Regions from separate parts of the Homo sapiens genome. Here regions 1, 2, 3 and 5 are each linked to region 4. The links come from fine-mapping of genetic effects on gene expression. A gene starts in region 4. Each other region holds a variant in brackets. All regions are shown on one strand. Distances are from middle to middle. Region 1 overlaps HDLBP (high density lipoprotein binding protein). Region 2 overlaps SEPTIN2 (septin 2). Region 3 overlaps HDLBP (high density lipoprotein binding protein). Region 4 holds the start of SEPTIN2 (septin 2). Region 5 overlaps HDLBP (high density lipoprotein binding protein).

Region 1 (5,105 bases), 29 kb after region 4:
TAATGTCTTCTTGAGGTTTCCTTTAGAGGGCACTCCTTACCTTTGGTGCCAGCCATTCTGCTATTCTGATCCTACTTCCCCTCATTACTGATCTTCCTTCTCTGCCATCCTGACCCCTTCCTGTCCTTGGATGCCTTTGGAGTTGCAGAGAAGCTGTCTTTATCTTCCTGGTGTGATACTTGTTTTCTAATAGTAGGAAATAGTGTTTTCTTGTTCTGCCCAGTTTTCTCTCTTTATAGATGAGACATCTAAGTTCCTGCTCCCTGGATGTATGTCAGTTTTTCTCTTACATGGTAATGTTCTGATCTGAGTCCGGTATCTCCATTGTCTAACTTTGCATAGAGGAACATACCTGTGCTTTGGTGGGGACGTTGTGCTTGTATTCGTGCAGTTTAATGTTGAATTAGCTCTTTGTGGAGACAGTTATATAAGTAAGCGTTTCTAGGGAGTCTTTATATCCAAAAGTGAGGCTTAATCTCTGAAGAGTAGACTGATAGGAAGAGAGTACCTGGAGAGATGATGCAGTCCCACCTTCTCATGAGACAAAGGAGGAAGCAGGCCAAGTGAAGAGGGTGATGTGCCAAGCAGTGTCAGCAGCAGATCGCACATTGGAGTGCCACATGCTCTCCACCCTTGAGAGGAGAAAACCTGAAGACTTGGGTTTTCCTGATGTGTGTTTTCTTGTTTGTAGAAAAGTATTGTTTCTATTTGGATAGGACTGAGCCCAAGATTAATCTTTCAGATTCTTAAGTATTTTCCACCCATGGCGTTAGCTAGCTTTGTATCCATAACAGAGTTCTTTATAAACATGAGCTAAGCTAATTCTAGCTCATAGAACTTTCCTATGTAAATTGTAGGAAGGAAAAAATCATCAAGTGTAAATTGTTGCCCTGGGTCAAACTTCAAATTATTTTGTTTCTTGTAGTTTAATGAGATTTATAGTGAGGAGATGGAAGGGATTTTTAAATTGCAGGACTAAAGGGGAATGGCCCTTCCTACAGCCATTCTGTTCCCATCCCCTTCCCAGGAACACCATTACAGTTGGGGTGGGGGCCTGCGTGGGCTTCAAGCCCTGGTGAGGAGTATGTGTGTGTGCAGGAGCTGCCATGAAACACCTTTCAGCGGCTCAGGGTGGCAGACTAGTGTTACCATGGCAGTTAGAGACATCAGTAAACCCATGGGTCATACGGATGCATTTCCACCTAGAAGCAGTGGTTTGTTTCTTCAGTGAGTCAAAGAAACTTAAGATGGAGGAGACCCTAAGGAGTCATGTAAGTTAAATGATCACCCAGTGGAGAGTACACTTCACAGTGGGAATAAGCTCTGCCCATTTTTTTTCCTAGGTGCTAATTCAGGAAAGCATGCTCACTCTTAGTGATCCTTTTCTTCATGTTGAGATGAAATGTGTCTTCAGAATTGTTCTTAGTTGTGCAGGCAACTGGACAGAACTCAGTCCCCCTTTAAATGCTCTCCACATGGTAAAGACAGCTCTTATGTATCTTGTTCTCAGTTTCCAAGGCTTGAATAGGTTCATGTAAAGTCATCACCACTTCCTCAAAAGGAAATTAACAAAAAAAAATTTTAATTCAGACGTCTTGCAGATAACGTGGCAATTGTAATGAGAATAGCACAGCAGAGAAAATAAATTTTGTGACTCTGTTTTTCACTGATTTGTAGTACCTGGTGATACTTAAGTGTCCTCTTTTCCCTCTCCAGGTGGAGGTATTTTTGTTGAAAAGTAAAGAGCCTCATATAATACAGAGCTTTCCCCTTCTGCTGATAACTCTCACAAACACTTAGCATATGTCCATCCATAGTTTCCTATTAAAACACACTTTGGGGGTATGTGGTGTAGGAATATGTGCCATTTTTCATGGTCTTCCCTCCCGTCTTCACATTCTACAGCTTCACAGCAGAATTGTCTTTTCAAGTCCATCTTTTACCCAGCTGTTCATGTTGATGCTTGTTGAGGACTGGGCTCTGGACTTCCTGTCCTTTTGCTATTCTCAATGACTTGAGTTTCCTTCTAGAGAGGTCTTATGCATGTACAAACATGTATATCTTTTAACACGACTGGTTACATATCAACGTAACACATAGCTGCAGGCCAGGCGCAGTGGCTCACACCTGTAATCCCAGCACTTTGGGAGGCCAAGGCAGGCAGATCACTGAGGCCAGGAGTTCAACACCAACCTGGCCAATGTGGTAAAATCCTGTCTCTACAAAAAAATATACAAAAATTAGCCAGGCATAGTGGCGCACACCTGTAGTCCAGCTACTTGGGAGGCTGAGGTGGGAGAATCGCTTGAACCTGGGAGGCAGAGGTTGCAGTGAGCTGCGATTGTGCTGCTGCACTCCAGCCTGGGCAACAGAGTAAGACCCTGTCTCAGAAAAAAAAAAAAAAAAGAAAGAAAGAAATAGGCCGGGCGCGGTGGCTTATGCCTGTAATTCCAGCACTTTGGGAGACAGGCGGGTGGATCACGGTGTCAGAAGTTTGAGACCAGCCTGGCCAACAATGTGAAACCCTGTGTCTACTAAGAATACAAAAATCAGCCAGGTGTGGTGGCGCACGCCTGTAGTCCCAGCTACTCGGGAGGCTGAGGCAAGAGAATCGCTTGAACCCAGGAGGCGGAGGTTTCGGTGAGCCAAGATCACGCCACTGCACTCCAGCCTGGGCAGTAGAGTGAGACTCTGTCTCAAAACAACAACAACAAACTGCCTCTTCTTGTTCACTGACACTGGGTGTATGGTTAAAGCCCCCTTAACTGACCTGTTTTGAGGCACAGAGGTTTATTTAATCACCAGTCATTTGATACAGGGTGAAGACCTATTTGAAATGGGACTGGCTGGATTCTACATGTTTTCTTTTTTTTTTTTTTTGGAAACAGGGTCTTGCTGTGTTGTCCAGGCTGGAGTGCAGTGGTGCCATCATGGCTCACTGCTCAACCCCTGGGGCTCAGGTGATCCTCCCACCTCAGCTTCCACACTGAGTAACTGGCACTACAGGTGCATACTACCATGCCTGGCTAATTTTTATTTTTATTTTTATTTTTTATTTTTTGGTAGAGACAGGGTTTCACCATTGTAAACCCAGGAAATCTGACAAGTCTCA[G/A]TTAATTTAGAAAGCTTACTTTGCCAAGGGTGAGGACGCGCACCCGTGACCCAGCCTCAGGAGGTCCTGATGACGTGTGCCCAAGGTGGGCAGAGCACAGTCTGGCTTTATACATTGTAGGGAGACATGAGACATCAGTCAGCATATACAGGACGAACATTGGTTCGGTCTGGAGAGGCAGGATGGCTCGAAGCAAAGGCAGGAAGACTCCAAGTGGGGAGGGGACTTCCAAGTCACAGGCAGGTAAGAGACAAATGGTTGCATTCTTTGGAGTTTCTGATGAGCCTCTCCAAAGGAGGCAGTCAGATACGCATTTATCTCAGTGAACAGAGGGGAGACTTTGAAGAGAATGGGAAGCACGTTGGCCCTAAGCAGTTCCCAGCTAGACTTTTCCTTTTAACTTAGTGATTTGGGGGCCCCAAGATTTATTTTCCTTTCAGACTATGTTGCCTGTGTTGGTTTTGAACTCCTGGGCTCAAGCGATCTACCCACCTCAACCTCCCAAAGTGCTGGGATTACAGGCATGAGCCACCATGCCTGGCCACATACTCTCTTCTTATGTAAATGAAATTGATAATATGTCGTCTAGGATTTTCAGCATTCATTTAAGTGGAACAAAAATTTAAGAAACTCATAATCAGTGTAGATTCTCTGAGATTTTAAAGGTTTTCCTCCATTTGACTTTTTCTTTTAAACAAACAGGTCTTGCTCTTTTTCCCAGGCTGGAGTGCTGTGGCACGATTGTAACTCACTGCAGCTTCAAATTGGGTTCAAATGATCCTTCTGCCTCAGTCTCCTGAGTAACTAGGATTACAGGCACAGGCTAATTGTTTTTATTTTTTATTTTTTTAAGAAATGAGGTCTCACTTTGTTGCCCAGGCTGGTCTCAAACTTTTGGCCTCAAGTGATCCTTCTGCCTTGGCCTCCCAAAGTGCTAGGATTATAGGCATGAGTCACCATGTCCAGCCATAATTTTTTTAAGGCAACTTGTTTTTCTTGAAATTTCAGTGTGGTAAATTTAATATCCATAGATAAATTTCTCTTCACTCCTTCATTATTTTGAATTATTTCTAAATGTAGTTACATTAACTAGTGAAACTGGCATAAACAGGTTTGAGAGCAAGTAAAACTGAGTCTTACTAAGCACACATCATCACTGGTGGGGATCGGTGTTCAGGGCACACTAGAAGGCACTCTGCTCATGACATCAATTAATATTTTACTGTGGGGGTGGAGACTTGGTCATTCATCAGGTCGTTTATGGAGGTCAGTGATAGTGCTTTGTGTTCTGCCACCCTTTGTTTACCCAGTCCCGGACTGAACCAATGCAAATGTTTAATCTTCTGACTCTACAAAAATGCTACAGTGCACATCAGGCACACTGCAGAGACACTGCAGGTTTGTGATACCACCACAAGAAAGCCTGACATCCCAATAAAGCACATCACATGAGTTTTACGTTTCCCAGTGCATATAAAAGCTGTAACATGTTTAGAAAAACAATGGTATATACTTTAATTTAAAATAATGGTTAAGGCTGGGCGCAGTGGCTCAGGCCTGTAATCCAGCACATTGGGAGGCCAAGGTGGGTGGATCACCTGAGGTCAGGAGTTCGAGACCAGCCTGGCCAACATGGTGAAACCCCGCCTCTACTAAAAGTACGAAAATTAGCTGGGTGTGGCGGAGCACACCTGTAATCCCAGCTACTTGGGAGGCTGAGGCGGGAGAGTCACTTGAACCCGGGAGGTGGAGGTTGCAGTAAGCCAAGATCAAGACTGTGCCACTGCACTCCAGTCTGGGCAACTGAGTGAGACTCCATCTCAAAAAATAATAATAAAATATTGGTTAAAAAATGCTCATGATCATTGAGCCTTCAGCAAGTCTTAATCTTTTTGCTGCTGGAAGGTCTCGCTTTGATGTTGATGGCTGCTGACTGATCAGAGCAGAGGTTGCTACATGTTGGGGTGACTGGCAATTTTGTAAAATCAGACAA
Region 2 (5,105 bases), 22 kb before region 4:
AACAATTATGCAACAAATCTATTATGTGCCAGACATTATTCGGAACTCTGGGAATACATAAGTGAACAAAGCAGATTCCTGATCTCAGGACCTGGGGTCAGGGGTCAGGAGAAGCCAAAAAACACGCTAGAGAAATACTTTATGCAGTGTGGGGGGAGTGCTACCAGCAGAGCAGGGGATGGAGATGTGAAATCTTGTGTGCAGCGTTGGGCTCAGTGAGGGAGTTCCCCACACAGGTATCTGAGGGAAGACTGTTCCAGGCAGAGGGTATCACTAGCAAAAGCAGCGAGCAAGGGGCAAAGAAACAGTAAATTTGGTCAAAGAAGAAAAGGGGCCAGAGTAAAACAAAAAGTAAGCCAAATATTCATCAGCAGGAAACTGGACAAGTTAGAGTATATTCATATGGTGGAATGCTGTGCATCCAGGAAGAATTAGGATACAGTATATATATGAGGATGCTTCCAAATATTTTTAAATAGAAAAATCAAATGGCAGAATAGTATTACTATGTGATTTCATTCTGCAAAACCAAAAACATAAGCTATGTTCTAGAAGGATATATACTTAACAGTTGTTCTTTCTGTGGGTAATTACAGAAATTCTTTTTTTTTTTTCTTGAGACGGAGTCTTGCTCTGTCACCCAGGCTGGACTGCAAACAACCTCTGCCTCCTGGGTTGAAGCGATTCTTTTGCTTCAGCCTCCTGAGTGGCTGGGACTACAGATGCCCGCCACCACGCCCGGCTAACTTTTGTAATTTTTTAGAGACGGAGTTTTGCCATGTTGGCCAGGCTGGTCTCGACCTCCTGACCTCTGGTGATGTGCCTGCCTCAGCCTTCCAAAGTGCAGGGATTACAGGCGTGAGCCACCACACTCGGCCTAGAAACTCTTTTATTTTAAAAAATATATGTATATTATATTTATATATATATAATATATAAAAATGTATATATAATATGTATATAAATATAATGTATAAATATAATATTTATATATATTTATAAATATATTTATATATTATATTTATAATATATATTATATATATAATATATATAATAAATATATGTACAATTATATATATTATATATAATATATATAATATATATTATAGATATATTAAATATATATATTTTTATATATATTATATATTTATTATATATATTATATATAAATAATATAAATATAATATGTATTATATATAAATAATATAAATATAATATATATAAACAATATAAATATATTACATATAAATAATATAATATATATAATATATTATATAAATAATATAAATATAATATATATTACATATGTAATATAAATAATATAGATATAATATATATGTAATATATATTATATATATTTATTAATTATATATTATATATATAAAATATATATATATATTTTTTTAGAGACAGCGTATTGCTATGTTGCTGAGGTTGGCCTCCAACTTCTGGGCTCAAGTGATCCTCCTGCCTGAACCCCCTGCTGTATCCCCCTACCCTGCCCCAGCAACTGTGATTACACGCACAGATCGGTATGTTCATTTAGGGATTTGTATTTTTATGCACGTACCGGTATGTTCAGTTAGGGATTTGTATTTTTAGAGTTTAGCATATATAAACTATTTGGACTTTCTTAAGGAGCATATAATCAGAACAAAGTAAGCAATTTAAAAATATATAGCAGAGAATCAATAAAGAGGCTTTACAGACATACACGGAAGAGGCACTAAAACTGGGACACCACAGGAGCTGCTGGCGGGTGAGAGGCGCTTCGCTGGCTGACAACTGCTATGTTTCCAAACAGAACAGAGAACCAGTCTACTTAGATACATCCTTGTATGGGTCATTTGCAGTAAAGAATTTAGGTAAAATAACAAACTTCATGGAGAGATCACATTTCTATATTTGAGTCATTTAACTCCCATGGAAGGTACTTGTGTGTAACCAACTGCTACTCATCGAGGGCATTTTAAATATAAGGAGAATTTAAAGAATAGAAATTTGATACCTTCATGAAGGCAAAAATTAAAATTTGTAACCATCAGGTTCTCCTTGAAAACCACCACTAAAATGCAGGAAAAATTCTCCCGCCCTGCCTCCCGACACCTGAGCAGACTGAGCGTGGGAACACACTCCTTTCTTCATCCCCATGCCCCCGAGTCGCACCCAGAGGGAGGGCAGGACGCCAGCCTCACTCACCCTTTTCTTCAGCCGCTCCCGTTCCTTCAGGGTGAGAGTGTCAGCTTTTGCAATGACAGGCACAATATTCACCTTGTTGTGTATTGCCTTCATAAACGCCACATCTAAGGGCTTAAGTCTAAAATTAATTTTAGAATTGTCACTTATTTAAAAAAAATACATACAAAACTCTTCTCTCTCAAATTATCTTAATTCTTATATTAAAATACACAGTTTGGGTAAAACTTACAAACCCATGTAGTAAAGCATTTCTCCACGATAAACAATTACTTACCCATGTCCAAAAGGTGAAATAAAGTAAAAGCAACAATGCACCCTATTATCAATGATGTGCCGCCTGTTCAAGCCGCTCTCGTCATGCAGGTACCTCTCAAATTGCTCATCAATATAGGAGATAATTGTCTTAAAACTGAGAGAAACAGAAACATTAACAATAATCATAGGGTATAAAACAGGGGGTCCCTGACTTCAAAGGGAAAACAAGTGCCTCCGCCCAAATATACATAATTTAATAATTCATTTTCAAGATGAGAACAGAAGACTGACTTTTAGATTTGGCAAATGGAAGTTTTTGGAAACTATGCCAAGCATAACTGCCCCTAAGTGCTGAGAGTCAAAAGCCTGAATGGAATAGGTTATGATGCACCTGAGAGAGGGCCAGTGTAGACAGGGCTGCCAATTCGTTCTTTTTTTTTTTGAGACTGAGTCTTGCACTGTTGCCCAGGCTGGAGTGCAGTGGCGTGATCTCGGCTCACTGCAACCTC[T/C]GCTTCCAGGGTTCAAGCGATTCTCCTGCCTCAGCCTCCCAAGTAGCTGGGATTATAGGCACACGCCACCACGCCCGGCTAATTTTTGTATTTTTAGTAGAGACAGGGTTTCACCATGTTGGCCAGGCTGGTCTCGAACTCCTGACCTTGTGATCAGCCCACCTCAGCCTCCCAAAGTGCTGGGATTACAGGCATGAGCCATCGCACCCAGCCAGGGCTGCCAATTCTTTTCAGGAACGTGACTGTGAAAAGGGGCAGAGGAACAGGGTGGTAGAGAACATGGGTCAAGAACAGGTTTATCTGAGCTGGGAAACAGCATTTAACTGAGCTGGGAAACAGTACAGCACTTTCACATGTAAGAAGGGAGAAATTCCTAAATGTAGGAGAAAGATAACAGAACCTTCCCCTTTTCATCTAGTGGTGGAAACCTGATGCTTTATGTTGACAGGAATAGAACCAGGAGGGAGTTTGTACAACAAAAGTGGCATTCTTTGCACGGTACAGGTGACAGACTGCTCTATCTTCTACTTCTTCATTTCCTTATTTGTGAAAATGATGCCAATGAGCAGTCATTTACAGACACTACGACTCAACCCACTCTCTAACAGGTTTCACTTCCTTCCACATAGAAAGGATGTACTACAGTATCTCGGTCACCAACCACGGCTCAAATCCAGGTGTTTCATTTATACTAGCAGTCTATGGATGACTGGCTTTGCGATCTCAAATTACAGTAGAGTACCAGAAAAAAATTACTCTCTATAAAATTCCTTATTTAAAAAGTCAACATTTAACACGCTTTAAATTGTCTAGGTGTTTTATTATATACAGCAATCCCAAACTTAATAATCACTCATTAACACTATCTATAAATTTATGAAGTATATTAAGTAAACAAATGCAGATCCCTGGGCATGGGGGAGCATACCAATCTCTGCAGTTGATAGCGTCACCATAGCCAGGGGTATCTACCACTGTCAGGCGTAGCTTGACCCCTCGCTCTTCAATTTCAACAGTTGAAGCCTCAATCTGGACAGTTCTTTCAATTTTTTCTAGAAAAGAAACAAACTTAATAGGGAATATAAGCAGCATGTGAAGAGGAAAGCTCACGTTCTTACGACAGGTGACTTCAGAGTCTACTGCCTCTCTACAGAGGTAGGTTCTCCAAAGATACCATGGGGATTAAGAAAAAAAGATCCCAGAGAAGTCAGAAAGGGGAAGGTTAAAGCTAAGATTATTGTGCTACTGGGGAAGGTTAAAAACACAAATGTTAAAAATTATAATTTCTGTTCCTGGGAAAAAGAAAGCAATTTACGAATTCATTTAAAAACTGAATTCAAAAATATTCTGAAAGGGCTACATATTCTTGCAGCAGCCCAAGTCTTAGGCTCTCACTATGTGTGCCTATTTCATTCAACAGTCATTTGTGGATGCTGGTGTCCTGTGCTGGAACTTTCTGACAGTAGATGAATTCGAACATCTATCCTAGTAATCTTCTAGTTACACAGCATTTTTGATGTAAAACATTCTCACTTAATCCTTCCATCAAATATTTAATATAGGCAGAAACTACTTATTACATTTTACAGACAAACTCAAGAGAGGATGGATCCATGGATACGTGTCAAAGAAAGTCTACAACCCAAATCCAAGGACCTCGGTGCAGCACACCTACCCCATAAAAGTGTTTTCCTTGTGTTCAAAGCTGAACAAGAACAAACAAAACACACAGCTAAGACATAAAATATTAATTAGGCAGTCTTCAGCATCTTTCATGTAGAATTACACTTACAGTAACATAAGAATGTTTTTACCTGCTGCTCCAGGTATGACTCTTTCTGGGTACAGATCAGTTAGGAATAGGCTGTTTATGAGAGTCGATTTTCCTAGACCTGATTCACCTTTAAATAAAAAGAAAAACCTTGTCATGACCTTATTCATATGACACCATTCAATCGGTTAAGTGTTTACATAAGGCCTGGTACTGGGCTAAGTACCTCACAAACATCATTCTGTGTTTAGTACCTACAGTACTACTATGTTTGCAGTATGATCTTTGAGGGTACTCAAAGAAACTCTAATTTGCCCAAGGTCAGAGTACTATCCAGAGCAGGGCCAAGATTTGAATCCAGGTCTATGAGA
Region 3 (5,099 bases), 60 kb after region 4:
CATAAGCTGAAGTGCCATGGCATGATCACGGCTCACCGGAGCCTCAACCTCCTAGGCTCAGGCAGTTCTCCTGCCTCAGCCACCCCAGTAGCTGGGACCACAGGCACACGTCACCATGGCCAGCTAATTTTTTTTTTTTTTTTTTTTTTTTTTTTGAGACGGAGTCTTGCTCTGTCGCCCAGGCTGGAGTGCAGTGGCGCGATCTCGGCTCACTGCAAGCTCCGCCTCCCGGGTTCACGCCATTCGCCTGCCTCAGCCTCCCGAGTAGCTGGGATTACAGGCGCCTGCCACCATGCTAATTTTTGTATTTTTGGTGACCTCGTGATCCACCCACCTCGGCCTCCCAAAGTGCTGGGATTACAGGCGTGAGCCACTGCGCCTGGCCTTGGCCAGCTTATTTTTAAAATTTTTGTAGAAGTCAGGTCTCACCATGTTGCCCAGGCTGATCTTGGACTCCTGGGCTCAAACAATCCTCTCATCTCGGCTTCCCGGAGTGCTGGGATTACAGGCGTGCCATCACTGTCTTGAAAAGACGTTTTGCTCTAGTGAACTTGAGTGGCTGCTTTTATCATGTCCTAAATGTTTATATTAACTTAGCTCTGTTTCTGGGTTTTCAGTTCAGACCAGCAGGTCTTTCCGTATACTGGTATTTCCTGTGTTAATGATAATGGTTTCATGTTTAATGTCTAGGACCACTGTTAACACCTCCACCCTGCACTATTCTTTTTCAGGGTTTTCTTGTTCATTTTTGTTGGTTCTGTGTTACAACCTTTATAATCAACTGTTTGAAATTGTATTAATATTTTAAAGTTAATTGGGATGATCGCCATCTACTTAAACCTTCTGTTAGCTATTTTAAGGAGTGTTTTCTAATTTCGAATGCACATACTCCACCTTGTGTTGGGCTTGTGTCTTGCTATTTTCTTGTCCTTTTTTCTTTTTTCCTTTTTTCTATTAGAAACACATCTTTTGGCCAGGCGCAGTGGCTCACACCTGCAATCCCAGCACTTTGGGAGGCTGAGGTGGGCGGATCACAAGGTCAGGAATTCGAGACCATCGGGGCCAACATGGTGAAACCCTGCCTCTACTAAAAATATAAAAATTAGCTGGGCATGGTGGCGCACGCCTGTAGTCCCAGCTAATCGAGAGGCTGAGGCAGGAGAATCCCTTGAACCCAGGAGGCAGAGGTTACAGTGAGCCAAGATGGCACCACTGCACTCCAGCCTGACGTCAGAGCGAGACTCCGTCTCAAAAAAAAAGAAACGCATCTCTTTCATTACATCTTCTAAGTAGTTGTTGTTTGTGGAAGTTAATGTTGTTAACTTCTTGATTTCAGTCTTTTCTCTTTGCTATAAATAGAATTTCACCCAGTAGTTTTTTCAGGGTTTCTGGATATGCAGTCATGCTTCTTCCTGTCCAGCTTTTGTGGATGTTAACTCTTGTCTCCCTTTGTGGGTGTATATTCCAGTGGATGTTAAGTAGTGGTGCAGATACACTCGAACTTACCCTAACCTGGGAGTCAGGGCAACCTTCCCCAAGCATGTGATGTTTAAGCTCATGCTGTTTTAATGGATGAGTTGGTGCTGCTGGGCAGGAATAAGCAAAGATGGTGTTTCTGCCAGAATGTCTTGGAAAAATATGCTCCTTCAGAACCTACAAATATTCTTGTTTTCTTTTATTCTCTTCTTGCTATAGGCCTCAGCAACTGTTGCCATTCCCAAAGAACACCATCGCTTTGTTATTGGCAAAAATGGAGAGAAACTGCAAGACTTGGAGCTAAAAACTGCAACCAAAATCCAGATCCCACGCCCAGATGACCCCAGCAATCAGATCAAGATCACTGGCACCAAAGAGGGCATCGAGAAAGCTCGCCATGAAGTCTTACTCATCTCTGCCGAGCAGGTGAGGCCTGTGTGAGTGCCTCGTGCCCCTGCCTACCTGCTTGTGCAGACCTCACTCCCTCATGGGTTGCCGTGTCCAGTGTGGACTTCAAGGCATAATGTGGTGGGGGTGGAGGGCTTGACTCCAACTCTAAAAAGCCCTGTCTGTCCCCAGTTTGTTTTCAAAGGCCTGTTCTCATCAGATCATCCCTTCCTTTCCAGGACAAACGTGCTGTGGAGAGGCTAGAAGTAGAAAAGGCATTCCACCCCTTCATCGCTGGGCCGTATAATAGACTGGTTGGCGAGATCATGCAGGAGACAGGCACGCGCATCAACATCCCCCCACCCAGCGTGAACCGGACAGAGATTGTCTTCACTGGAGAGAAGGAACAGTTGGCTCAGGCTGTGGCTCGCATCAAGAAGATTTATGAGGAGAAGGTACACGATTTAGAGGAGGCAAATCCCCATGGGCAGGAATAGAAATGAGGATTTGGGTCTGGAGATTCAGTTAAGGCCTGGTTCTGCCCCTTATCTTTTTGTCCTTGATGAAGATGCTTATTGTCTCTACACTTGAGTGACCCGGGTGAGATCGGTGCCCGCCCCCCCTTGCTGTTGAGCATCTGCCTGGCAGTTGTCCTTGCC[G/A]TCCTGGGCCTCTGACTGTGCTGACAGGCTGCCAGCTGGGCTGCCCCGGGTCAGATGCACATCCCGGACTTGTTCACGTCTTAGATTAAGCTGTTAGCTCAGCTTAGTGAACTTTGAGGTCTGAAACGTGTTCCTTAATTGAGGGAAAGGATTGGGTGTTTTGCAGTGTTCAAGGACGAAGTTATCAGCCGGCGGGTGACTAGACTGAGGGGAAAAATCCAGTCCTTGAACAGTGAAGTTTCTGGGGATTGGCTAGTCCTGATCACTTGTTGTTCACTTCTTGGGATCAGCATCTATAGTCTGGGCCGCTTTGGCTTGCTTTCTGCAGCAGTGGCCATGCCCACCTGCCCGCTTCCCACACCTTTCCCTTTGACTGCCCCTTATGGTGCTCTTATTTAGAAAAAGAAGACTACAACCATTGCAGTGGAAGTGAAGAAATCCCAACACAAGTATGTCATTGGGCCCAAGGGCAATTCATTGCAGGAGATCCTTGAGAGAACTGGAGTTTCCGTTGAGATCCCACCCTCAGACAGCATCTCTGAGACTGTAATACTTCGAGGCGAACCTGAAAAGTTAGGTCAGGCGTTGACTGAAGTCTATGCCAAGGTAACTGCCTCCGAGCATGAAGTGTGTCTCCTTTGAGTGGAGTCCGCGGGGCCTTCATGGATGAGCTCTCGATTTGTAAATCCTGGGGCCTGGACACAGTGCAGGTGCCCAGGTTTGGGGAGAGCGTGCCTCTGAGCCCCAGGTGAGCAGCCTGGCTTTCACTGTGACACGACCTTGAGCTCTGCAAACCCATGGCTGTTCTCCCATTTTCTTAGGCCAATAGCTTCACCGTCTCCTCTGTCGCCGCCCCTTCCTGGCTTCACCGTTTCATCATTGGCAAGAAAGGGCAGAACCTGGCCAAAATCACTCAGCAGATGCCAAAGGTAAGGACACGTTTTTCACCTGTTGTATTGAATTTGTCTTGTTTTCTGTCTTTCTGTTTCTGATATTGCTTTGTTGACCTTTGTACTGTGGATGCCCTTGAAAACTGGTGTATTTTTCTGAATTAACTGGCCTGTTTGACATGGTCAACTTCCGTGTTAGCTTAAAGAACAGCAGAATAAATGTCTGTAGATGTCTGTACCATCCTTCTGGCCTTTAACCAGAGAGGATTGTATGTTCTTAGGTTTCATAAGTATCTTAAGAAACATGTCATTTAGTAATTATGGTGAAATAACTTCATGATACTTTGGCGGGCCGGGTGCGGTGGCTCATGAGGTCAGGAGATCGAGACCATCCTGGCTAACATGGTGAAACCCCGACTCTACTAAAAATACAAAAAATTAGCCGGGCTTGGTGGCGGGCACCTGTGGTCCCAGCTGCTTGGGAGGCTGAGGCAGGAGAATGGCGTGAACCCGGGAGGTGGAGCTTGCAGTGAGCCGAGATGGCACCACTGCATTCCAGCCTTGGCGACAGAGCGAGACTCTGTCTCAAAAAAAAAAAAAAAATACTTTGAAGAGCAGAACTTGTATACAAATTGTATTAAGTGTGAATTTAAAGCGTTCTCAGTTTACCAAAGGAGATTGTAGCCCCCAGGAAACATGAACAAAAAAGAAATACCAGAGAATCCAACCATCATATTTAATTCCTGTTTTATTTAAACTTTGTTTCCAATTAATGTTACAGTCCTTTTTAAAAATTAAATTTTTTTTATTTTATTCCTTTTTTTTAGTGACAAAGCCTCACTCTGTCACCCAGGCTGGGGTGCAGTAGCGCAGTCATAGCTCACTGCAGCCTTGAACTCATGGGTCAAGTGATCCGCTCGTCTCAGCTTCCCAAGTAGCTGGCACTACAGGCGCCCCAGGCTAGTTTTCGTGGAGGCAGAGTCTTACTAGTTGCCCAGGTTGATCTCGAACTCGTGGGATCAAGTAGTCCTCCTACCTCAGCCTCCCAAAATATTGAGGTTATGGGTGTGAGTCACTGTGCCCAGCCCCTTTTACTTTGTATAGCTTCATATAAGGACCAGTCTGCCTTCCTTAACTCCTTACCTGGAGGATAATAAACCAGGAACTCTGGCAGCCTTGTCTATGTCAAGCAAGTTACTTTACCACCTTGGTACAGCTATACGAGTTTTAAAATTCCATCCGTGCTCTGTCTCATTCTTTATGCAACTCAAGAGGACCAGGCCTTGTAAAAGTTCAGATGGTGGAGGAGCATGTCGCATGTCGCATGCTTTATGTTAGTGGCTTCTGTGGGGCAAACGGTGTCCTTAGTGAGAGGCAGGATTATTCGGCCACAGTATTTAGTTTCCTGACTATGGCTCCCTAACCCTCCCTTTCAACTTTGTTTGATGGCTGTGGATATGTCCCTCCCTCCCTCACATCTATGTGAAGCAGTTTGGGATCAGAAGCCGCTCCGAAGAGAGCTCCCACTGGGAGCTCAGGGGCTGCAGCTGTGCCATTCTGTTTTAGCTATCTCTTTGGTTTTGGTGTGGTAGGTTCACATCGAGTTCACAGAGGGCGAAGACAAGATCACCCTGGAGGGCCCTACAGAGGATGTCAATGTGGCCCAGGAACAGATAGAAGGCATGGT
Region 4 (5,105 bases):
ATGCTGAGGATAGAAAAGAGCAGGCACTTACCTTATCACCTATTACATGTATCTGATTTCAAACCCACACAGTGCAACATAGAAATACCATAGAGCACCTCTCCCGCACCTCCACAGAACCCCTCAGCCTCACTGAACCCTGTGCACACATATGGGAAAATGGAGAAACTATTTGTCTTAAACTGACATTTCAACTTTGCTTTGACTTTACCAAGTTTCTCCTGCCATCTTTTTTTTTTCCTGTTTTTTTTTTTCTGAAACATAACTTGGATCCACAATGTTTTCTCTCATAATTTATTAACTAATGTGAAATGGAAGGTGAAAGAGGAATTATGAACCTCTGAAGCACATGGTTTTCAGTGAGAAAGCCTTGATCCAGCAACACAAACTGCCAAGCACTGTGATTAACTTAAACACTGGGTGCAAATTGGACCAAAAATGTAGTCAAATGAAAATTTTGTTCCTTCAGATCGTGTTTATTCCACATGCCAGAAGTTGTTTAAAGTTCTTTAATCTTGACCCACAGCTTATTTCTTCCACAGAATAACCCCAATACACATAAAAAACCAATTTTCGCAAAACAAAAGATAGAAGATGAACAACATCTGGCGATGTAGAACCCGGAAGGTCCATGATCTTATTCAAAGCATCTGGATTCTTTGGATTCGGGGAAGGTCCACGTTCAGTATACCCACATAACACTCCTAACAGGGACTGGGGCAGGGATAAGTGGCATGTATGACTACTAACAGAACAGACAATACAAATGGCCTTACCTCACCTCTGCTGCCAAATGAGTTTTGGTGTCCCCATTCCTCCAGACAAAAAAAAAAAAAAAAATACCCACAACTTCTTCTTTTACAGCAGTTTCTGTATGCTGGTATTGGGGATAAAAAGGGGCCCTGAATTACATTTATGAATGATAGAGGGAAACCCTGGCCCCTTTCCCTAGGTCACCTTGCTAGTTTAAGAGCCAGTCAGAATGTAAATCTGATCTAATTAAAACGCTCTTGTTCTTTATTCCTGGCTGTGGCACTGGTGAGAGAAATCAAGGTGGAAGTTGAGGAAAAAAAATCAGGACAACCTTTATAGCTAATGAGATCAATGCCAAGATTATACATAACAGTACACATCATGAGTTAGGATGCTGGGTGGTGCAAAGAACCCATTAATGGGAGCTATCAAAAATCACTGAAAACAATGAGGCTCAAATCAGAAGTATCAAGAATCAGCTTTCATGACCCCTACACCATGATGTTTTTCTTTATGACGGCAGAACTATTTTGAAACATTAAATATATCGGCAGGCACTGTGATTCAAAAAGTATTTGAGAACCTACTAGGTGCTAGACACCAACCGAGGCAATGAGTATGGGTGACAACATGTGCCCTGCCCTCACAGCACCAATAGTCCACTGGACAAATACCATCTGGAACATCAGGTAAACACCTAAGCCTGTCTGGAGGAAATCTAATTTGGGCGGAATCCCACAAGCACAGACTAGGTAAGGAGAAGGCAGTTAAGGTGGGAAGTAGCCAGATTTAAGAGTTTGGGCAATGGCCAAAGGTGCAGAAGTTTGAACTACAAGAAGTTCAGTGTAGTTGGTTCGTGTGTTTCCGTGGAGAGAGGACAAGGTCTGGTGGCACTGACAAGAATTAGACCGAAAAGGTAAAAAAGCAAGCCAGGTTTGTCTGGGCCAGTAGGCCAGGTCACAGTTGGGACTCCACTGAGACCACGGAAGCCACAGGTTTGCTCCTCATCCCCGGGCCAACTCGGCGGCCTCCAACCCTATACCCTACCCCCTGCTGCCTGTCCGTGCCTCGCTGGTGCAGACCTTCGTCGCCTCTCCTCGCCGAAGGTACCCGCAGACAGGGCCTAGTCGCTCTCCCCTCGCTTATCCACGGCATCCAGCCGATGGGCTTGGAGGTTTGGGGGCTGGCCAGTCCTCCACGCCTCAGGGAGGAAATGGCACCGTTAGAAAGACAAGATGGCCACACAAGCTCTAAGTGTTTGTCGGGCCTAAACCTGTATCCTCCCTCCAAGCACCAAACCTCCCGACCTCGACCGCACTCGACGCCCCGAGGCCCAGCACCGACGACAGTGCAGAGGAATTCCCGCAGGGTCAACAAGGGGTCACCGGAATCCCCACTCCCGCGCCCGGGCCTGCCCGTGTCGGAGCCACTGTCGCCGGCACTAGGACCGCCCGGGACGGGGGAGCCCACGATAAGTGCCGAAGAGCCTGGGCTCGGCCGCCCCTCCCCCACACCGCCCCGCCGGCACCCCAGAGCCAGCCGACCACCGCCCGAGAGTATGGGACGAGCGGCGCGTCCCCCGCAGCTCCTCGGGAGGGCCGGCCCACAACTTGTGCGGGGTACACCGGCGAGACACTCACCCGCCAAACAGCCCGAGAACAGGCGCCGACCGACCGCGCCGCGGACCCGCCCAGCGCTCGCGGTCCGCTCACAGCCCGCCCCAGCCCGCCCCGCCCCGCCCAGCGCGCAGGCGGATTGCGTCACCGCGTCACCCCGCCCCTTTGCCAACTGCTTCCTGGCTCAGTGCGACCTGGCCTTCTTCCCCTCCCCCATGCGGCCGGCTTCCGAGTGCGCAAGCCCAGAGTCGTCCGCGTTGTCCGCCTCTGCGCAAGCGCCGTGCTCCTCCCACGGCAGTTGGCCATATAGAGGCTGGGGGTGGGGGGGGAGGTCAAGCGTAGCCTCTTCTCCTTTACCAAGATGGCGGCTTGTCCCTGTTTCGCCACAGTTCCTACCTTATGAGCTCGGTTTTCTTATGCTTATAAGAGTGGAACAGGTAATGAGAATCTTCGCCTTGCGGTGGGTAACTGGAGTGGGGGGAAGGCCGTTTGTTAGAAGGAGACAAGTGCCCACTGAGGAGGAGAGAGGCGGTCGCGGGAGGGCAGGTGGTGGCGGGAGTGCGGAGCGATCACGGGGAGGGGGAGCCTTCGCCTCTCCTCCTGTCCTCCAAGAAGATGGCGGCAGCACCGAGCTGGGGCGCCGAGTACGACTGGGCGGGGGACGGCGAGCGGCCGCGCGAAACTCGTCTAGCCCACCACCGCCGCCGTCTCGATGATCGGGGGGCCTCTCTGGGATTGGCTGCGCGCACGTCACGTGGGGCCGACGGGCCCTGCGCAGACCATCGAGTCGGGCGTCCCTCCCCGGGGACGTGGCCTTCCTGTGCCCGGGCTGGGGCCCGCCGCCCCGCGGGGGAGGGCGGAGCTGGCGCGGCCCCTAGCTTTCTCCTTCTGGTGTGGGGCCCGAGGTGAGACCTGGGGAGTGCTCCGCGAGCCCACGAGCAGCGACGTGGCTCGGGGACGGGAGGGTGCCGTGCCTGGCTGCGGCCTGAGCGGGATGGGCGCGGGCGGCTCCGGCCCGCGGGTTGTGCCCCGGCCCGGGGTGTCCTTTCCTCCCTCCCGCGTGGCCTGGAGGCACTGCAACTGTTCGAGACTCACGTCAAGGCTTGGCGCAAATACCCCTCGTTCAGGAAGCCTTCCTAGGTTTCCCCCGCTTAGAGGAAACACTTCCTGAGTTCCTAATGGCTGACCCGCATGGTGTTGGGAACCTGAGCCTTTCTGACACCGTGGCATGTTGCTAGGGTATTTTTGTGCGTAGCTCCTTTGAAAAGTGGTTAGGTGCTCAAGGCTAGCTGCTACATATCCTCTCCATTCGACTTAAAAAATGAGAGGGTCAGACTTGACATGGTGTTTGGACGCCATGTAAAATCGAAGGAAGTCGACTTGGGCTTTGCTTATTAAACAGTGCCTATTATGGTGAAATTAAACGGCTGAAGGAATGTGGATGAGTCGTAATCTTAAGGAACATGACGATTTGCCCCTCAGTTTTGCGTTTTATGTCCTCAGATTCATAGCTACCTATACCCTAAGCCCTCAATCAATGACTTCACATTTATTTGGTGTCTGCTTAAGGATAGTCACTTTCTTAGCAGCTAACTTCCTTAAAACCCTATTAAGATAGGTTAAGTCACAATTAGGGTTTTGTCTAAGGCTCCTGGTAGCGGCACATTGCATAATAAGCTTAATGTTCATTTAGGGAAGCAAATCTGGGATGCTGAAACACTGGATGAAACGTAGTGCTTAGGTTTATATTTTGATTTTTTGACATGTAAAAGTATCCCTAGGCTAAATTCATTAAGTACACATGATATTAGGATGCTTGGCAACAGTATTTAAAAATAGTTGAAAAGGTGTTTGGGTAAGAATTATTTCCATCATTTGGATTACCGAATCTCTGAGTCTGAAACATCAACCTATCAAGTTTTAGACTTGGGGAAAATGGAGCTGGAGCCTACTGCCTCAAGTCTCAGGGACAGCGTTTGAAACCCCATTAAATAATTCATCATGAGGATTAAACTTTCCTGTTACTGCTATTAGTTTTGCTTGGTGCCAAGCACTGTTGAAGGGACTTAGCTCATCTTATCAGGAGTCAAATTAACGTCATTCGGGTAAAAGTGCATTGAGTGTAAGGAGAGCACCTCAAAGATATAGTTGACCTATATCACGTCCCTCAGCGCCACTAGGCTTACTTGAATCCCTGTTACAGTGTCCTCTCCAGTGGGCAAAGCTAACTTCTCAGTGGCCTGGTGGGAGAATTTCTTCTTGAGTAAATACGTATTTTTCCAGGTTTTGTTGTTTTGGCCTTCCAGTTGTCTGACTTCAGCCTCATGACCTCACTTCTTCATTTCAATTCAAAAAAATATTTGCTGGAAATTGCTGTGTAGGGTTAAGGGTTCTGCAGATACAAAGGTTGAGAGGATATAGTCTTTTCGACCAGGTGCAGTGGCTCACGCTTGTAATCCCAGCACTTTGGGAGGTCGAGGCGGGTGGACACTTGAGGTCAGGAGTTCGAGACCAGCCTGACCAACATGGTGAAACCCTGTCTCTACTAAAAATACAAAAATTAGCCTGGCATGGTGGCGCGCGCCTGTAATCCCAGCTGCTCAAGAGGCTGAGGCATGAGAATCGCTTGAACCCAGGAGGCGGAGGTTGCAGTGAGCCGAGATTGTAGCACTGCACTCTAGCCTGGGCGACAGAGTGAGACTGTGTCTCAAAAAGCCAACAAAAAAAGAGGATATA
Region 5 (5,105 bases), 40 kb after region 4:
AAAGCATTTGGAGACCCGCCTTTTTGTTGTATTATTTTGTTGTTGTTGTTTTTTGGTTTTTTTTGAGATGGAGTTTCACTTTTGTTTCCCAGACTGGAGTGCAATGGCGTGGTCTCGGCCCACGGCAACCTCCACCTCCCAGGTACAAGCGATTCTCCTGCCTCGGCCTCCTGAGTAGCTGGGATTACAGGCATGCACCACCACGCCCAACTAATTTTGCATTTTTAGTAGAGATAGGGTTTCATCATGTTGGTCAGGCTGGTCTCGAACTCCCAACCTCAGGTGATCCGCCCGCCTCGGCCTCCCAAAGTGCTGGGATTATAGGCGTGAGCCACCTCGCCCGGCCTTGTTGTAAGTTTTATATTTGTTTCTTTGAAGATTGGGGAAGGTTGGTTATTGAAACTATATTTCTAACTCAGTTTGGGTAACTTATTTTTCTAGAATTTGCCCATTTCATCTGTTTTCGAGTTTTTGACACTACTCTTCTCAATAGAATTCTTACATGATTTTTCAAAGTCTCCATTTTAGCTGTAGTTTTTGACCCCCTTTTAATTCTTAATATTGCCTACTTATACTGTCCTTTTTTCAGGAATCATTTTTGCCAGAGATTGAACTTGTCTTTTAAAAAATTTGGATGTAGGTTTTGTTTATCCTTTGTGGTATATGTCTTTTAGTTCATTAATATCTTATCTTTATTTCCTTCTACCTTTCTTTTGTTTATTCTGGTGTTTTTTGTTCTAGTTTCAGTAGTGGATGATTAGCTTATTTTATTTTTTTCCTCTTCACTAATAGGATGGCTTAAAGTTACAAGGCTTTAAGCAACAATCTTGTTTCATTCCACAAGGTGGGATATATAATTGCTTAATGGCTTAGTTTTAAATGTTTTCAGATTTCTTCCTTGTTCCATGAGTTACTTAGAAGCAAGTTTTAAAACTTATATAGTCTTTAAATTTTTAAGTTGAGTTCTAATTGAGTGGTGGTCTGAGAATGTTACTATGATTTAATTCTTTACTATTTGTTTAATTTTTTTTTTTTTTTTAGCTCCTGGCCAGGTTTTATGGTTTTTTAAAAAGGTGTCACTTTTAATCATGTGTTCAATAAAGTAGATTTATTAATTGTGTTTGCATCCTCTATACATTTTCCAATCCCATAACCTGTGTTACCAAGAGAGTTGGGTCAGTCTCACCCTTTAACCTTGGATATATCAATTTCTCCTAGTAACCTTCAGTTTTTACTTTATATGTTTTGCAGCTATGTTATTAGATACATGTAATCAGAGTTACTGAATTTTTAAGTTCTTGACCTTCTCTGTTCTTAATAATGATTTTTATCCTACAGTCTGTGTTATCTGAAAATAATATAACCAACTTTCATATGGTTAGTATTTGCTCGGAGTACTTCTTCCATCTCTTTATTTCAGCCTATATGTCTGTATGGTTTAGGACTGTTGAATGGCCTATAGCTGCTGTTAGAGTTGGTCAGTTTAGTCTGTTAACACGTATTTAGATTACTGATGGGTTTGAATTCATTCCTCTCATCAGTTTTGTGTTTTATTTACCTTGCTTTTTCATTGCTTCTTTTACTTTTCTTGCCTCCTATTCTTTTTTCTTGTTTTCTCTCTTTTCTTTAACAATTATTAATACAGTATAATGTAACCAGTAATAATGTACATCGTAATGAATACCGCTGAACCTACCACCTAATCCAAGATCTAGAACATTGCCAATAACTTCCATTTGAGTAAGAGTTTAGTTTGAATGTTAAAAACTCTTTGTTTTTCCTAGATTGTCTTTAAATTTTTAACATTCATTCTCAACAAGGGCTAAAATTAGTATCTCTAGCCTCTCCCCAAATAATAAGAATCTTGAAACCTTGCAACTTCATATCCCCCTTCCACCTTATATATTATTGCTGCCTAAGCATTTTAATTCTGTCTTTTATTTTATTTTGTACTTGCATATTCTGCTTACGTACCTATCTATAATTTAATTCCCTTCAAATTTTATTGTTGATATTAGTATAGGGTCACCACTTGTTTCACTTTATCTAGGTTGCTGGTTTATCAGTATTCCTTCTTTCTGGTCTCTCTGGCTTTCATTTTCTTGCTGAAATATGTCCTTTAGTAGGTCTGTCAGCAGGGATCTATTGGTAGTAGTTGCTTTATCTTTGAATATGTCTATTCTCATTCTTAAATGAAAAAGAATTCTTAAATCCAAATTGACAGTTATTTCTTTCGCCATAATTTATATATAGCCATTATCCTCTGGTATGTATTGTTTTAAGTGGTCTGCCTTTGGTCTCATAGTATTCTTTATGAGTAACCTGTCTTTTCTCTCTAGTTGCTTTTAAGGTCCTGCTCTTGTCTTTGGTGCTCTGAGGTTACTCTGTAGTGTGTTTTGATTTGGATTAGTTTAAATTATCCTGCTAGACACCTTCTCTGTCTTTTTTGGGATGAGGGAAGAATGTTGTATCATTAAATCTTAGAATTTTCTCAGCTATTTTAAAAAATGTTTCTTCTCTGTTCTTTGGATTTTTTCTTTTCTCTTTTTGTTTTGGAACTCCAGTTATAGACATATGTTAGAGTTTCTCATTCCATGGTTCTTAGCTCTTTCATTCGTTCCATCTCTCGATTTTTTTTCTAAAATGTCACCTTTATGTCTCTTATGCTTTTTTATTGTCTCAATCTTAGTT[C/T]TGTCTCCCGAAGTTCTTGAGTCTAATCCTACTTCTAATCCATCCTTCCTTCTTTTTGAGCTTTGGGCTTTTAGCCTCTCTACCATTTGTGCTGATCTGTGGGTATCCTTTTTAGCCTGGTATGAGGTTTATTCTTTCCTGAGGCGGGGTGGGGGGGAATTGCTTTCTGTTTTGTTAATATCTCAGTTTGGGCTAGGGGTTCCTGGACAAATGGGCTTGGTTGTAGAGTACTAGTCCATTGTCCCTACAGCTCAAGAGATGCTTCTGTCTGCCAGCTCAGGATAGTCAGAGAAGGCATCCTGTAGTCCCCTCTACACTAGTGGGCTTTTCTTCTTCTTTTTTTGATCTACCTATCTTCTGGTAAGTGTAGCCCTTTTGGGGATCATGACTTTATGGAATAGGAGGGTATCTCTTCTCACCTCCTACCTTGAGCAGACCCAAACTTCTCCCCCGTCCCTTTGAGGGCTGAAAACTCAAATGTCACAGACAGACGTTCACACTTCATTTGGTCTGAATATTGCTAGCCATGGAATTTCTAAAATTTGCTTCTACGAACTATTTATTAGTTTCAGTGTGCTAAGCCTGCTGGGAGGAAATGCTGGTTGTGAGCATCAGCACAGAAGCATTCTGGACGGTTATTAGCACAAAGTTAGCATATGATTTTGTAATCTCTTCTGCTAACAGTGTTTTTTAAACTAACTCTTTACGGTGTCCTGTGTACTAGGTACTGTGCCTGTGCTGACTTCCTAGCTTTATTGGAAGTTCCTTGACAGCGGACCGAATCCCTACCCGTTACTCTTTCTCCATCTCCCTCTGCAGTGCTGAGCCCTCAAAAACAAAACAGCAACAAAAAACACACTTGCACTAGTTGCTGATTGGTTAATCCCCACGGAAAGGTTACCAACAAACCACAGCAGTGACACAGAAGGGAATGCCTATTTCCACATCTAGGGAGGCCCACCTGCCCAGTTCCGTGCTGCTGACTTAGAGCACGGCTTTGCTGATGATATCCTTGGCTCCTTCTCTGCGTCAAGCCGCAGGTGTTCTCTGCCTTCTGTGATTCTGCTCCCCTCCCTAGGTGGTGTCATGAAGTGCATGGTATTTCTGCTGGCTCCTAGGCTTTTCCCCTGACCTTGCACATACAGTTGCCTGCTCCACTTCCCCACCTGCCCAGTCAGGGCATCACACCCCCTTATCCATCCAGTCTTCCTTGAATTTTACCCACCTCAGTGAGGGCAGCTCTTCCCAGTCACTCAGGCCAAGAACCTGTGTCTTTCTTAACTTCTTTTACACCCCTCTTCTGGTCAATAAGGAACTTCTTGGTGCTTCTTTCTGAATATATACCAAATCTGGCCATTTATTTCCTCCATTATGCCCACCATAATGCAAGCCATTGTCATCTTTAGACTGAACTATAGTAGGCCTCCCCTGCCCTCCCCTCCCCTGCCACTTAGTGTCAGTGTTCCACGAAAAAAAAAAAAACACGTCTGATCCTGCCTTCTGCTGCTTGCAGCCCCCACCCAGCTCCCACCATCCTCAACAGCACCCGTGGCCTGGCTGCAGGCTGTGCGGACCTGACCCCATTCCCTGGGTAAGGCTGGGTGTGCCCCTACCTCTTCCCCTGTGTGGGACGGTCTTGTCCCCAGATACCTGTAGTTGATCCTGTGCCCTATGCAGGATTCTGTTGACCTGCGACTTTGCCAGAGGTTCAGACTGACATCTCTACAGATTGCTCGACTCCCTTTATACCCTTAAAAGAAACAGTGGCAGTTATCACTTAGTAAACACAATGGATGCAGAAGTGACAAGTCCTTCCCGGAGGGTGGAGACCCCGAGAGTAGGGATTCCGTTCCGCCCAGTCCTGCGTATCCACCGTGGGCTCAGAGGCCACACACCGGTTCTTTTGCGTGTATACATCTATGTAGAGATGGAGCCATAAGTAATACACGCTTTAAAGGAAGGGGATTTTACATTTTGGGGGGGAGATTAAGTTGATTGCCAAGGAATCGGGTGGGGATAGTTTATAAAAGTGAGGGACATAAGGAATAGGCACGCAGGAATGAGGGAATGAAAGCCCTGGAGCCGCCTGGGAGCCTCACTGCGCTGTAGGACCTCGTGCCAGTGTGGCCATCCGTTTACGATGTGGTGGGCATCCTTTGAGGTTTTTCTTCTGATTTTGGGGAGGTGGGCGGTACTGGTGACATCTGCTTCCAGAGCAGCCGTCCTTCCTGCTCCCTTTCTGGTCTTCGGTTGTTTCCACTCGGGTTCTTGCGGGGCGCGCTCCCTCTGCTTTCTGGAGGTGATTAATTTCCCAACTCCTCGGCACCGCCTTCCCCACCCGAAAAAAGGATGCAGAACCACGCCTGCAGTTGGGTGGGCCTCCCGGGTGCTGGGCGGCCCGGGGCGGCGGGGAC

What was found. PIP is the estimated chance that this variant, and not a neighbour inherited with it, causes the effect.
Region 1: its variant is the best candidate, but not a certain one, in a credible set for the expression of SEPTIN2 in whole blood (TOPMed, PIP 0.61).
Region 2: its variant is the best candidate, but not a certain one, in a credible set for the expression of SEPTIN2 in nasal epithelium (TOPMed, PIP 0.50).
Region 3: its variant is the best candidate, but not a certain one, in a credible set for the expression of SEPTIN2 in monocytes (Quach 2016, PIP 0.82).
Region 5: its variant is the best candidate, but not a certain one, in a credible set for the expression of SEPTIN2 in lung (TOPMed, PIP 0.85).

Annotation. Positions count from the first base shown.
Region 1 is chr2:241,284,722-241,289,826 of GRCh38, reverse strand. All of the region lies in intron 1 of HDLBP (high density lipoprotein binding protein), which reads left to right. Among named protein-coding and RNA genes, the nearest start is that of HDLBP-AS1, 15 kb to the right of the region's middle. The variant G/A (reference allele first, on the strand shown) is at 3,113.
Region 2 is chr2:241,334,885-241,339,989 of GRCh38, reverse strand. SEPTIN2 (septin 2) reads right to left here. Exons shown (of 13, transcript NM_004404.5): 4 at 4,778-4,864; 5 at 3,892-4,015; 6 at 2,474-2,608; 7 at 2,200-2,317. Among named protein-coding and RNA genes, the nearest start is that of FARP2, 19 kb to the left of the region's middle. The variant T/C (reference allele first, on the strand shown) is at 2,964.
Region 3 is chr2:241,253,403-241,258,501 of GRCh38, reverse strand. It overlaps HDLBP (high density lipoprotein binding protein), which reads left to right. Exons shown (of 28, transcript NM_005336.6): 6 at 1,696-1,902; 7 at 2,103-2,318; 8 at 2,922-3,128; 9 at 3,344-3,451; 10 at 5,005-5,099. Among named protein-coding and RNA genes, the nearest start is that of HDLBP-AS1, 16 kb to the left of the region's middle. The variant G/A (reference allele first, on the strand shown) is at 2,523.
Region 4 is chr2:241,313,271-241,318,375 of GRCh38, reverse strand. SEPTIN2 (septin 2) reads right to left here and starts at 2,451. Exons shown (of 13, transcript NM_004404.5): 1 at 2,394-2,451. It overlaps HDLBP (high density lipoprotein binding protein), which reads left to right and starts at 2,704. Exons shown (of 28, transcript NM_005336.6): 1 at 2,704-2,806. RefSeq lists enhancers at 1,254-1,978, 1,929-1,988, 1,979-2,703, 2,629-2,728, 2,749-2,798 and 1 more and silencers at 2,179-2,528, 3,069-3,448.
Region 5 is chr2:241,272,921-241,278,025 of GRCh38, reverse strand. All of the region lies in intron 1 of HDLBP (high density lipoprotein binding protein), which reads left to right. It overlaps HDLBP-AS1 (HDLBP antisense RNA 1), which reads right to left. Exons shown (of 2, transcript NR_168372.1): 1 at 4,342-5,105; 2 at 1,087-4,023. Among named protein-coding and RNA genes, the nearest start is that of HDLBP-AS1, 3.3 kb to the right of the region's middle. RefSeq lists a silencer at 4,969-5,105. The variant C/T (reference allele first, on the strand shown) is at 2,692.